2 linked regions of the Homo sapiens genome follow. The protein of the gene in region 2 interacts with the protein of the main gene of each other region in a pairwise test. Each region holds a gene or a part of one and is shown on either strand. Other genes may lie near its edges.

Region 1 (7,028 bases), on a different chromosome or scaffold from region 2:
CCCGGGCCACCTTTGAGGTGGCCAGGATTTCTAAAGACTCTTCTTTTGGGAGTTTTAATTTGGGCTTTGAACTAGAACAGATTAAAATCTACTTTAAAAAAAAATTCTCTCTTTCCTTTAGAAAACAAGCAGATTTCCCCGTGCATTTTATTCTTGGCAAGCTTTGGCATCTAAAAAAAAATTTCTCTCTCTCTCTCTTTTTTTCATCTCAGAACTGATGGCTGAAATGAACAAACATCACTGTTCTGGGAGATCAAAAGAACATACACATTCATATATGTGAAAACTACAATAAATCAAATTACTGAGGGCTATGGATTGAGCTTTCTAGCACTTGAACCACTTCTGATTTTTCAAGTTTGCAAAAACAGATTTTAGTGGCTGATTTGACTACTAGGAGTGATAGGGGTTTTTGTGTTTGTTTCTTTTTTTTACTTAAATGATAATATCAGAAATTAAAACATGCTTTTAAATCCAACCTGATTTTAAGATGCAACTTGTGGTTTCTCAGGTTGTGAGTCAGAAGCGACAAACGTTTTAAAATATAAAATACTTAAAATAGTCAACATTTAGTGATGAATTCAAGTTCTCCTTAAAGATTTTTGTCTGAACAAGTGCATTGTGTGTAACAAGCATTTTTAAAATGTGAGTTTGAACAAATTTAGAAAACACAGGAGAGCTAATTGAAAGCAGTTCTTTGGCTATAGGTATCATTAATTTAAACATGTTCCTCATAACTTTCATGATACTTTCTCTTTTTTTCCTTTCCACTCAATCCCTCAAATTTTTCAGTTAGGAAAACCTTGCTATTTAATAAATTGTAGGCCTTAAGCCCCTGTAAAAGTGGCAGATGATATATTCTCAAACACCCAGTCTTCACGTATAAAAGGTGAGATAACATTCATTTTTTTTCTTTGCCAGATTACACAACTGAAAATAGATCACAACCCTTTTGCAAAAGGATTTCGGGATAATTATGACACGTAAGTAACTTTGTATCTTCCTTTTCAAATAGCTGTGGAATTGGGCTTTAGGTCAAAGGTGTATTATTATGTACAAGGATTTTGAAAGCTGGAATGTGTGAAGACAAGGTTGTTTTAGAGGACTTCTTCTTCTTCGTCTTTCTTCTTTCTTCTTCCTCTTCTTTTTTTTTTTTTTTTTTTTTTTGGTTGGCTCCCCTTCTCTCTGGTGACCTTGTGGCTTGGTACTTGCGTGGTTTTTGGTCAGAGGTTTCCTCCACCTAATTTTAACTTTCCTGTGGATTACAAAGTTGTTGGTGGGCCTCTGGGGCTGGCTGGCTGGCTGGGGAGGCTGCCCTGGTTCTCGGGTGCGAGTACTGTATGTGGCGCTGCAGATGCTCAGCTCAGATTGTCTATGTCTGTCTGAAACGGGCAATTCTGCCTAAAAGTGCATGTGGCTCCTCTGGCAGTTGTTAACAGTCTCCTTAGCATATGCGACCTTTATTTACCCATTTCCAAGTTTTGTATAATAGCATTTCCTGTGCAAGTTGGCTACGGACTGAATACAAATGTGCACCCACCACAGGCGAGTTCATGAGCAGAACCGCTGTTATGGTCATTTTAGGCTTTCGGAAAGATTCAGACGGTGTTGCTGTGTATTATTTATAAGCTTCAAAAGAAAAATATTTCCTCTTTGTTTTGTATCTAGGTGTGTTTTAATTAAACATGCTGGTGCCCTTTTCTTTAGGCCTCCCTTACCTCCCTCCTTTCTATCAAAAGGCTGTTCTCTGGGGCCAACAGTAGGTGTAAACTGAATGCTTTCTGGGCTTGTTCTGCAATTCTCACTCAGGGTCCATAGTGCCTAAGAGTTCAGATAGTGTCATAAATCTAAATCTGGATTGTGGGGTTCCCCCACGTTTTCTGACCATAAAAGGAAAGGGTACATACATCTTAATTTCGTGGCTTACATTGAGCGCCTGAGACAGAGCTAAAAAGTTGAAGCTGCCTTTGACTAGCATAGATTAAATGTGTGGAGAAAGAGACAAGTGACTGCCTCTATTCCATCTCCAAGCAGATACCAACCATCCCTCCTGATATTTTCTAATAATTTAAAAGAGAGTCATTGATATTACTGCCTATAACCACCATATATATTCTTCAAAAGTACTCCAAAGGAACCAAGTCTCATCAATATGATTCCCCAGAATAAAAACTTGGCTACTCTATTCCTCACAATCTAAAAAGGTGTGCCCAGCACAGTGGAAAGTATATGGCTCAAGAGACTAGAGATGTTAGAGGAGAGTCCTGTAGATTTTGAGATTTTAATTCTGTTGTGAACATCTGTTCAAAAGCATTTTATTTTGCACAAATCAATTCAGTAATCCCAAGTGGGTGGGACCTGGATAGGCATCTAAACTGTATCTTTTGCGGACTGCTTTTTTCTTTTTAAAATATTGTGGTGATAAACAGAGAAGATATTTGCACCTTGCTAGTTATGTTCCCTTCCTGCCTCCCTCTACTTCTCTTATTTGAAACTGGAATTCAATTTCAGAAGGGAAATTTTGTGCACTAAACAGAACGGACCTGAGCAGCCACAGCAAAACTCTCACATGCCCCTCCTCCTCTGGCTGCCTTCTGTTGGAAAAGCCACTCCTCTTTGATCTTAAATCACTTTAAATCTTTCATAAAAGCTTCTTTATCTATACACACACACACACACACACACACACACAAACCTGAGATTTTTAGGGGACAGAGAAGAGTTGAGTGGTTCATGACACTCTTCCTTTCCCCTTTTACGTTGGTTACTTGGACATGGCTCAATTTTGGAGAAAGAGGGAGAAGTATAAGGGTTCATGGGGTACTAGGAGCTTGCTTGGCCACTCACCAGGGAATCTCCTCCCCAAAGGATTAAGGTCTGACAAGACTGAGGCTCTCCTTCAAAACAGTCTGTTGACTAAAGATTAAAACATTTATGTGTGAGCTAAATAAAAAGGGAGGCATGTGTGCATGTGTATGAGAAAACACTTCTACCAATCTTCATCCAACCCTTGGTTTCCTCTCAATTCTAATGGGATTTTCTAGGCCCAGGGCCTAAAGTTAATCTTTGATTATTTTATCTAAGGTAATTCCCAACAACACAATCACTGTCGCTGGTTGGGCAAGTTATTTAACTTCCTTTTGCCTCAATTTCCTCATCGGTAAAGTGGGATAATAAAAGTTACCTAGCTCACAGTGCCTGGCATATAGTCGAGCTCCGTAAAGGTTAGCTATTATTAGTGGTCCATTGCATGGAGTAGGCTGATAAGTACACTGTAGGTTTGCCCCGAAGTTTCTGCGGGTAACGGACCAAAAGCTAGGAAAAGAAGGTCAGAGTAAAGAACACCTTTTCTCTTAAGAGAATATTTCTGATTGATGACTACTGTTTCAGAGTAGTAATTCTTGTTTGTATTAGTAGAGGTGGGAGTGAAAGTTTCACACAGGGGAAACAATAGACACTAAGTACTTTGGAGGCTTCCAGCAGCAAACCTCGGGTTCCAGAACACGGGTGAAGGCCAGTCTTTCATGATTACTGCGTGCGCGGCTTTTTCCTAGGGGTTTCTGAAACAATCTAGAAAAAGGAGAGATATCACCTGAACAATCAAATGGACACAGGAGGTCTTAAAAGGGTGGAGGAGTGAGTACCTTGCTTAGAAATTTCACTCATAAACTGACCGCAGAGGAAAGGCCCACTGGGCAAAGAGCATCTTACTCCCTAGGTAAATCTGCCTTAATGTGCACACATATGTTGGAGAAGTGGGATGAAAGTCCTTGCTTGTGCCCCTCTCTCAGTACCCCAGTACACTTGACGAGAGAGAGCAAGAGAAGAGGGAAGTCGTTCCCTTGATGGTCTGTATCTTGCTCAGGTCCCTGCATAGACAGATTGGCTCCTCTATAATTCCGTGATTTATTTTGGGAATGATAGAGGTCTGTGGCCTCTTGTATTCTCCAGGAAATCCTGGACTGCAAGTTTGTAGATGGAGGGTGTGGGGGTGGGCGAAAAGTGGAGGTGGCCTTCCCTTCTGCCCCCACCCCCACCCCAAGGGACCTCCGCGCCACCCCTCGGCTCTCTCTCTCTCTCTCCCTACCCCGCAGGATCTACACCGGCTGTGACATGGACCGCCTGACCCCCTCGCCCAACGACTCGCCGCGCTCGCAGATCGTGCCCGGGGCCCGCTACGCCATGGCCGGCTCTTTCCTGCAGGACCAGTTCGTGAGCAACTACGCCAAGGCCCGCTTCCACCCGGGCGCGGGCGCGGGCCCCGGGCCGGGTACGGACCGCAGCGTGCCGCACACCAACGGGCTGCTGTCGCCGCAGCAGGCCGAGGACCCGGGCGCGCCCTCGCCGCAACGCTGGTTTGTGACGCCGGCCAACAACCGGCTGGACTTCGCGGCCTCGGCCTATGACACGGCCACGGACTTCGCGGGCAACGCGGCCACGCTGCTCTCTTACGCGGCGGCGGGCGTGAAGGCGCTGCCGCTGCAGGCTGCAGGCTGCACTGGCCGCCCGCTCGGCTACTACGCCGACCCGTCGGGCTGGGGCGCCCGCAGTCCCCCGCAGTACTGCGGCACCAAGTCGGGCTCGGTGCTGCCCTGCTGGCCCAACAGCGCCGCGGCCGCCGCGCGCATGGCCGGCGCCAATCCCTACCTGGGCGAGGAGGCCGAGGGCCTGGCCGCCGAGCGCTCGCCGCTGCCGCCCGGCGCCGCCGAGGACGCCAAGCCCAAGGACCTGTCCGATTCCAGCTGGATCGAGACGCCCTCCTCGATCAAGTCCATCGACTCCAGCGACTCGGGGATTTACGAGCAGGCCAAGCGGAGGCGGATCTCGCCGGCCGACACGCCCGTGTCCGAGAGTTCGTCCCCGCTCAAGAGCGAGGTGCTGGCCCAGCGGGACTGCGAGAAGAACTGCGCCAAGGACATTAGCGGCTACTATGGCTTCTACTCGCACAGCTAGGCCGCCCCTGCCCGCCCGGCCCCGCCGCGGCCCGGACCCCCAGCCAGCCCCTCACAGCTCTTCCCCAGCTCCGCCTCCCCACACTCCTCCTTGCGCACCCACTCATTTTATTTGACCCTCGATGGCCGTCTGCAGCGAATAAGTGCAGGTCTCCGAGCGTGATTTTAACCTTTTTTGCACAGCAGTCTCTGCAATTAGCTCACCGACCTTCAACTTTGCTGTAAACCTTTTGGTTTTCCTACTTACTCTTCTTCTGTGGAGTTATCCTCCTACAATTCCCCTCCCCCTCGTCTTTCTCTTACCTCCTACTTCTCTTTCTTGTAATGAAACTCTTCACCTTTAGGAGACCTGGGCAGTCCTGTCAGGCAGCAGCGATTCCGACCCGCCAAGTCTCGGCCTCCACATTAACCATAGGATGTTGACTCTAGAACCTGGACCCACCCAGCGCGTCCTTTCTTATCCCCGAGTGGATGGATGGATGGATGGATGGTAGGGATGTTAATAATTTTAGTGGAACAAAGCCTGTGAAATGATTGTACATAGTGTTAATTTATTGTAACGAATGGCTAGTTTTTATTCTCGTCAAGGCACAAAACCAGTTCATGCTTAACCTTTTTTTCCTTTCCTTTCTTTGCTTTTCTTTCTCTCCTCTCATACTTTCTCTTCTCTCTCTTTTAATTTTCTTGTGAGATAATATTCTAAGAGGCTCTAGAAACATGAAATACTCAGTAGTGATGGGTTTCCCACTTCTCCTCAATCCGTTGCATGAAATAATTACTATGTGCCCTAATGCACACAAATAGCTAAGGAGAATCCACCCAAACACCTTTAAAGGATAGGTGTCTGTTCATAGGCAAGTCGATTAAGTGGCATGATGCCTGCAAAGCAAAGTCAACTGGAGTTGTATGTTCCCCCCACCTTCTAAATAGAATAGCTCGACATCAGCAATATTATTTTGCCTTATTTGTTTTTCCCCAAAGTGCCAAATCCATTACTGGTCTGTGCAGGTGCCAAATATGCTGACAAACTGTTTCTGAATATCTTTCAGTACCCCTTCACCTTTATATGCTGTAAATCTTTGTAATGAATACTCTATTAATGATATAGATGACTGAATTGTTGGTAACTATAGTGTAGTCTAGTGAAGATGAATTGTGTGAGTTGTATATTTTACTGCATTTTAGTTTTGAAAATGACTTCCCCACCACCTAGAAACAGCTGAAATTTGACTTCCTTGGGAGAACACTAGCATTAATGCAAGTAAGACTGATTTTCCCCTAAGTCTTGTTATATTTGATAAGGAGCATTAATCCCCCTGGAAATAGATTAGTAGGATTTCTAATGTTGTGTAGCAAACCTATACTTTTTTGTATTTAAAAATTAATGTGAAATATGCATCATACACAATATTCAATCTAGATTCCAGTCCATGGGGGGATTTTTCCTAATAGGAATTCAGGGTCTAAACGTGTGTATATTTTGGCTCTTCTGTAAATCTAATGTTGTGATTTTTATATTTGTTTCGTTTTGTCTGTGAACTGAATAATTTATACAAGAACACACTCCATTGAGAAACGTTTTGTTTTTTGCTCGTTTGTATCGTCTGTGTATAACAAGTAAAATAAACCTGGTAAAAACGCTAACTATGGTGTTTGAAAGCAGTTTACAGTTTGAAAATAATTTAATTATTATAGGTGATGATATTTAAGGGTTAAGGAAGACTAGCCCGTCCCCACTCCAATATGGGCAGCCTGTTTAATGGAAGCCACCTCCCATTCCCCCCTTAAATTTGTTTTATAGTACTTCCAGGAGCTACTTTTTTCTTCTTATTTATAATTATTTAGCTACCTATGAGCCAAGTCTCACTTTTCTGCGCTCATTTTCTTTTTTCAGGAAAACATATGCACTTTTCTCATCATATTTATCTGATTCTCTCTGAAGTTGGAAATAATGCGAACAGGAAAAGGAGGTTCTTTAAATAAGGAGTTAAGAATTTCTTTAAATTTCACAGAGTAAGGCGGGAGGCGTTGGCCAAAAGTAGGGTGTAATTTAAATGCATGTCAAAATAGGATGTT
Region 2 (7,028 bases):
TAAAAAAACAACAGAAAACATGAGCAGAAAGGAAATAATTGCTGTAACTATAGTAAACAATTTTTGAGCGAAATGTGTTTATAAACAAATAGGTTTTGCTAAACATCTTATTGAACATTAACAAAGAAAAAATCATATAAATTAAAACTGATACATAGTGATGGATTTTATAAGAAAAAAACAAAGCTAATACTCTTTTCTGAGATTAGGCAGCTAATAAGTATTCAAATTAGGCATAAATTTTACATGCACAATGTTTAAAATATTCAGAGAAAAGGTCTGATTGCCTTTACTAGTTATATGAAAATTATAATTTCAATCCTCTCCAACTGTAGAAACAGATAGGCATAACTTTTACATATTGCATTTAAATTTTACTTTTGAGAACATGTCTGGAATATGTGTATATATGTGTATGTTTTTATTTCATCACCTAAGTTATTTGAAATATTTATTGTTTCTGGATGGAGTTAGCAACACAAGGAATAAAAATAAAACACTATATTTTCCAGTGTAGCAGACAGGTGCAGCATTTACTACTAACCTTTGTGTAGTAAATCTCAGGACCAATTGGATGAATTAAAGAATTCTACATGTATTACTGTGTCATAATCAAGGCCATCAAATAATTAAGAATAATCAACAAGCAAAGAGGCATGTGTCTAAATCTTTATTACAATTACGAAGAAAGACCTAAATAACTTATAATTCCTTTTAACTAAAGGATTTTATTCTTAGCCCTTGTGGAGTTTTTAACTTTATAAAACCCTACAGTATAAACTGTTATTTACATTTTAAGTTCAATCATCTAAGAGTTAGTAAAATAATGCTTAAGAAAACTATAACAGTGATAGTACTTTTTGCTCTACAAAAGAGGAGTATCTGATACAACACTTATATGAAAAAAGAAGGGTGATTGTGTAATTAGATGATTATACTGTACATTTCACTTAAAAAAGCTTGGAGTATGTTCACTATAAAGGAGGAATTTTTCAAGGACAATGCAGATTATTTCTAGCATTTACTAAGTTTCTCTTGGTAACACTTCCACTTATTTCCCAATATAGGAAATATTTCCAGCACAATGTGAAGTGCTGTTTACCTTTTAAGTATATTTTAAATAATAATAAATTCAGCATATTCTTTCAGAGTGGATGTGCTTATGATCCGAAACATACCAAGCTAAATTATTCATTCTTATCAATCCCACCACAAACATTTTACAAAAATCAGTGAAAATAAATTCCAGATCATTAAAGGGAAAGATGAATCTGGGAGTCCCTGTTTTAATGTTTGTCTGAACTGTAAGTTAAACCCTTAAGTCTTTCATCGTACACAACTTTTCAGCCACATCAGAAAATAACTCTTCAGATCTTACACTCAAACGATACAGTTAGACTTTTCTCCCCTGCATTAAGTTTTCCTTCCTTTCCTTTTTCTTTCTTCTTTTTTAAGCAAGTCACTGTACAGATACTTATTCTCTACACCACTTCCCTTTTGAAACATTAAACTGACACTGGAACTGACTGCACAAGATTGCATTTTCTCTTCCTAAACAACTTGAATTGAAAGGTTACTTAGTGTAACAATATTTACTTGCAGAATTGTGTTGTTACCAAGGGTATAATGGATGGTGGCTATGCAGGTTTACGCAAGAATGAGTGAAGCATGAGGCATTAGCCATGTGTTTGACATGTTTCAAATTGCTATAATCCAGCATTAAACACACCCAGCAATTCATGCCATTTCTTGCAGCCATAATCTTGAATAAAGCGTGCACAACCACTTATTATATAAATTAGTATATGACTCCCTGTTATAGTCACAACAGTGCTTTTGTGTTTATTTTGCATCAAGATGTAGTCTTTTATTTGTACAAATAGCAGGATATAAAGACATAGCTCAATTAGGCCTCCTTACTTTATGATAGGGTAGTACTGAATGCTAGACTTGTTGGTTTTATTTCTTCCTCGTAGAGTTATATGTTCTATTGGTATAAAACTGTATCATGTGAGATAGTTACATGCCAGAGTGATAACAGAAACCTGCATGTATCCTATTCCGTATTCGCAGCAATGTTTAAAAGTTTGAAACTTGACCTGGACAAGCATAGTTAATTGTGTTATCTCAGCCACCACCAGGGACACTACTGGTCCTTGTTGCTTACTCAACTTTCTCTATGGTCTTCTTTCTCATCTCTTCTCCTTCCCTGTTTCTTATGCTCCCTATCTCTTTTCCACTCCACATTCCCATGTGTATATGTGTGCACATGAATATGTGTATCTATATATGTTTATAAAGATAGATCAATCAATCTGTCTATGTATGTCAGGGATTATAAAGAAGATAAAAATAGCCTCTACTTTGAACCACACTCTGCATTCTACATAAACAGTCTGTCTTATAATCTTAGTGCCTTAATATTAACTCTCATTTTGGTGGAGGAGTCTTACTATTTAATCAAAACAAATGGATGAAAAAAAAATGACTTCCCAGAAAACTAAGAACAAATAACAGTACATATAAAACATTTCTAACAATTCATTTCGTCAACTTTTCTTAAACAAAATGATTACAGTGACCTTGAAAGACACTTTATGTCTAATATCTGATTCATTCCAGTGTCCAATTTATTTAATCAAACATATGCATTAAATCCAAATAGTTTTGAATATGACATTTTAAGAAAAGTAAGGCATCAAATTTAAAACATATATTCTTAAATACCTCCTTAATCTTTGATCAATTATCAATATCAAATATTAAATATTTCTATGCAGATTCACACAAGAAAGAGTTAAATATTAAGAAAACTTAACATATGTAACAAGAAACCTCATACGTTTACCTCAAAATATTAGTTAAGTTCTAATTTTGAAAACTTGACTGTGATTTAAAACTTCTGAAAGAAACTAGCGTTTAAATAATGATAACTCTTGTGCTCTAGTGGAATTAATTCATCATAGGCACCATGCATAGTGCATTTGAGATCCAGCACTGCTTTGCTAAAAGTCTTTAATGCTAAGATTGCCTAATAAATCAAAATGCCAAATATGAAGGATATAGTTGAATGTGTAAGAACAAAAATTGAAACAGCACATGAATATTTTCAATTTTTAAAAACTGAAGCAGGATGTCTTTTAAAACATGATTTGGGGAAGGTTATCTGTTATAGCAAGTGATATTTTTACTATACCAAGTGACATAATTTTAAGTAAATTAAAATTAACTTGTTTATTAAGTATTTGTTACTACTTTTTACTTATTTAAACAAAATGCCTAAAATGCTATACACAAATTAGAAAAAAAAACACTTTAGTAAAAATTCAGACTTTCATTCAAAAAGGTTAATATTTCAAACATGCAAAGTAGAAGGACATTTTAACAAAATATTTTTTAAATGATAATGACTACATTTTAGCAAAGATAATACTGTTAGATCTTCAACAATAACAAAATCTAGGAAACATAAGTAAAGCCAATGAAAAACTTATCTTCCATTTCAATCAGCTATTAATTAACTTAGCAACTAAGTATATTATATTTTGCTCCTGGATAAAAAATAAAATAAGTTTAAAATGGAAACAAAACATAAATATTTAATTATGAAAATATTATAAAATACTAAAATTAAGTATTTAATCCCTATGCTATTTCACTTAAAGTGCAATGAAGAATTTGAAAGAATGGTGGCCATGTAGATGTATTTTACTGCAACATTATGATTCTGTATCTATAGTTCAGAAGCCCCCTTCAGAAGTATAATTGAAAGAGATTTTATAATACTATATTGATAATTCTGGTTAACTAATTACTCAAAAATATATTTCAAAATTATATTTTCACATTAATCTTCATATTCTAACATCTTGTCTTCACATTCATATAATTTCTGTATATATTTATTTCTCAAACATGTAAAAATGTACACCAATTTTTACTTTTCAAGGTACATGCTAAATTGTCAGTCTTCCTTTTAAATATATAAATTTTAATGTTAGTTTAATTCATTAAATCATTTAAATGTTTTAAAATCAATCCTTTATAGCATTAATATTTATTTTTTCAAAACAAGGGGGATAGGAAGCTTAGGGAAAGTTTATTTCACCCTGCTACTTTATAACCTCTGACAAATTGAGTTTTCATTAATTTATAATGCCAAAATGTAATATTTTTTGCAATGTGTTATCCTATCTAACTGTATGTCTTAGATATGTAAGAGGAGGACTTAAAAACTAAAGAATGTTACCTAGTTGCCAATACAAAAATAAATACTGGCTACAGTTTACAAGACACCAGGTAAGCAAGTATATTCTGTCACAGATTTTCTTGTCTTTGCCTGAAGAAGAAAAATTGTCAAATCCTGCAACCAGGAATATTTTCGTTTAGGAAACAGAATTTAACAGTAAAAATGTAAGGCAATAAGAAATAATTAGCTCTCCAAGAACATAGAAAGACCTGCCTAGCAGGCAAAACCTCCCTCTTTTTTATTTAAAAAGCTTAGTGATTGAGTTGTGCAAGCTTGCAAGCTTCCATGCAGTGGGTCCACTTACAGTCAAATTCCCAAAGGCTGGACTACTTGCAATAGCCTTCACTGATCCCCTGGCTAATGAGAGCTCTGAGTATGTACTTCTCTTGTGATGGCATTTTCACCTTTCCTGCCACATATCTTTCCTTAACCCTCAGGCTTACTTTACTTCAATCTTCAGTCTCCCGCCCACAGCAACTCCCTGGGATCCCTTGCTGTTTTTCCTGAGCATAATACAGCTCTTCCACGGATCCTCATTCTCTTGCCCTTTCAGCACTTTTTACTTCCAGGCTATCTTTTGGGTGCCAAATGTCCCTTTAATACTGCTCCTCAGCAGACCCACCTCTTGCCTTCCCATTGGAAGACCCACAGCATAGGCGGTACGCTTAGAGAAATTTCTTCCACCGGTCTCAACTTAGTGCAAAAGTCCAACATGAGCCTAGCAGGTGGATGCAATGGTAAGGCCAGAATTTTAATGTAACCACATGATTGTGTTGAATGGAGTTTTAGAATCTGGTCAGGAAACTGCTTTTGTCCTTTCTGGGGTGTGTGTGTGTGTGTGTGTGTGTGTGTGTGTGTCTATGTGTATGTAAGCGACCTGTCACAGAGGTTTTTTGACGGCATAGTTTCAAAATAGTTTATACGTTATTCTTGAGATTGAACTTTATTTTAGGCATTAGAATAAACATTTTTATACTTAGCTTCCACTAATGTTAGCATGAGTCACACTCATACCATGGTCTGATCTAAATAGCAAGTATGCTATAAGGATAAATAACTGTGAGGGATGTAGGGTAATTTATACTCTGGCATCAAGTGTGTATAAAACAAGTGACTATGAAGCAGACCTACTCCAAAAACACCTGTATTAACACACAACATGTAACTATTTTAAACTGTTTTAAATGTTAGCACACATCAGAATATCAAAACATGGCATAAACCTTTCCGTCAAATTTCAAACCTAAACTTGCTGTTTGCAAGTATTTCTTGTCCTATGTAAAATGAAATCCACCTATTTTGGATGAATTCACTATTGCTGCCAAACAATAGAAAATGCCAATAACAGTATGTCATAAAGTATATATTTAATACACATAGATTATCAAAATTTGACATACTACATATGTATATACATGCATATACTTGACATACATATACCTATAACAATTGCCTTTATATGCACAGTCAGTTAGCATAGATGTATTCTGTAACTTAGCATTTAATAATACAGGCAAAATGCAGGAAAAATATAGCCAGTTGATAAAAGCAACTGAGAAGAGTGTGTGTTTAGCATTACAATTTAATGCATTTAGACAGAAAAATTTTACATTATCATTTGTCAGTTTTATTTTAATTACTAGTCTTTCAGTTAGAGCTCTAGGAAACACACTGTTATTCCAATTTAGAAGAAAGTCATTATGAGTTCTTACAGAAGAATCAGAAGGCAGATTGGAGGCACCTGGGTTTATTGAAATAGCCACATCATTCTTATAAGTATACTTAAAACATTTGCCTCAGTTTAACTAAACATGAAAGATATACGCCTGAATCCTTTGCGATCGACAGGTTCTCATAAAAAAAAGCCATTGACCTTCTGTATAGCTTTTTTTTTTGAACCCACAGCTTCAATCATCACCAGAAAGTTCTTTAAAACACTACAATAGCTTTGTTTCTTTTCTGCTTTAATTAGCCTTCATGACGTCTGTTCTGTGAGTTTCCTTTTCTCTTTCTTTTTTTCTTCTATGGTTCCTAAAGATTCAAATGTCTGAGAAAAAGAACTTTGTAATACTAACAAGAGTCACTACAACTTCTTTAGAAGAAGGTGAGTGGATGTAAAGTTAATGATCGAAGCAGACACAAACCTCGCTAGCCACAGAATCTTGCCGAAGTAATACAGAGACATAGCTCATCATGACGTTTCCAGTTATTTCTAGCTGATTAGGGTCATTATGTTGGAGGGCTGATTTATGTTGTCATTCCCTCTCACCAGTCCTGCATCAATAGATCTTAATGAATTGGTAAATAAGGGTGAAGATTACACTTGACAACACAGAAACATTTCTCATTCATACCAGACAAGATTTATGTAACCAATTAGGACATAACAGGAGAAATTGGTCAGAAGAAAAATAATCTTTCCAGAAGAAAATTACCCAAGTCCAAACCTCTACAAAAACAGATAACCACTGGAGTTTAATATCAGCTCAATCATGAGTATAACGCCTTGTTGTTCCTTTTAAAGGAATATACCCTCACAAAAATCTGAATGCACAGAAAGTTTTTGAAAAATGTATTGCAATGTCTACTTTCTACAACATTTTAAGATGCAATAAAGTACTTTTCACAAAGTAGAAACATCTTGGGGCATAGCACTTTACTGTATATCAGTTCGTGTATTTCTTTCATAGTATCATTTCCAAGTGTAAGAATGCTATAAGAAAATACCAAAAATGCATGCATTTGTCAGTTTCTAAAGAATGATCATTACCAAAAAAGG

Evidence for each region. Proteins that work in one complex are often made in the same cells at the same time.
Region 1: the proteins of FOXP2 (region 2) and TBR1 interact in a two-hybrid assay, tested with the Homo sapiens proteins (2 studies listed by BioGRID and IntAct, with this or other methods).

Annotation. Positions count from the first base shown.
Region 1 is NC_000002.12:161,419,275-161,426,302, forward strand, and holds the end of TBR1 (T-box brain protein 1), read left to right. Parts: intron 1-921; coding exon 922-983; intron 984-4,094; coding exon 4,095-4,953; 3' UTR 4,954-6,596; downstream 6,597-7,028. UniProt on the Homo sapiens protein: Transcriptional repressor involved in multiple aspects of cortical development, including neuronal migration, laminar and areal identity, and axonal projection.
Region 2 is NC_000007.14:114,417,793-114,424,820, reverse strand, and holds part of FOXP2 (forkhead box protein P2), read right to left. Parts: intron 1-7,028. UniProt on the Homo sapiens protein: Transcriptional repressor that may play a role in the specification and differentiation of lung epithelium. May also play a role in developing neural, gastrointestinal and cardiovascular tissues.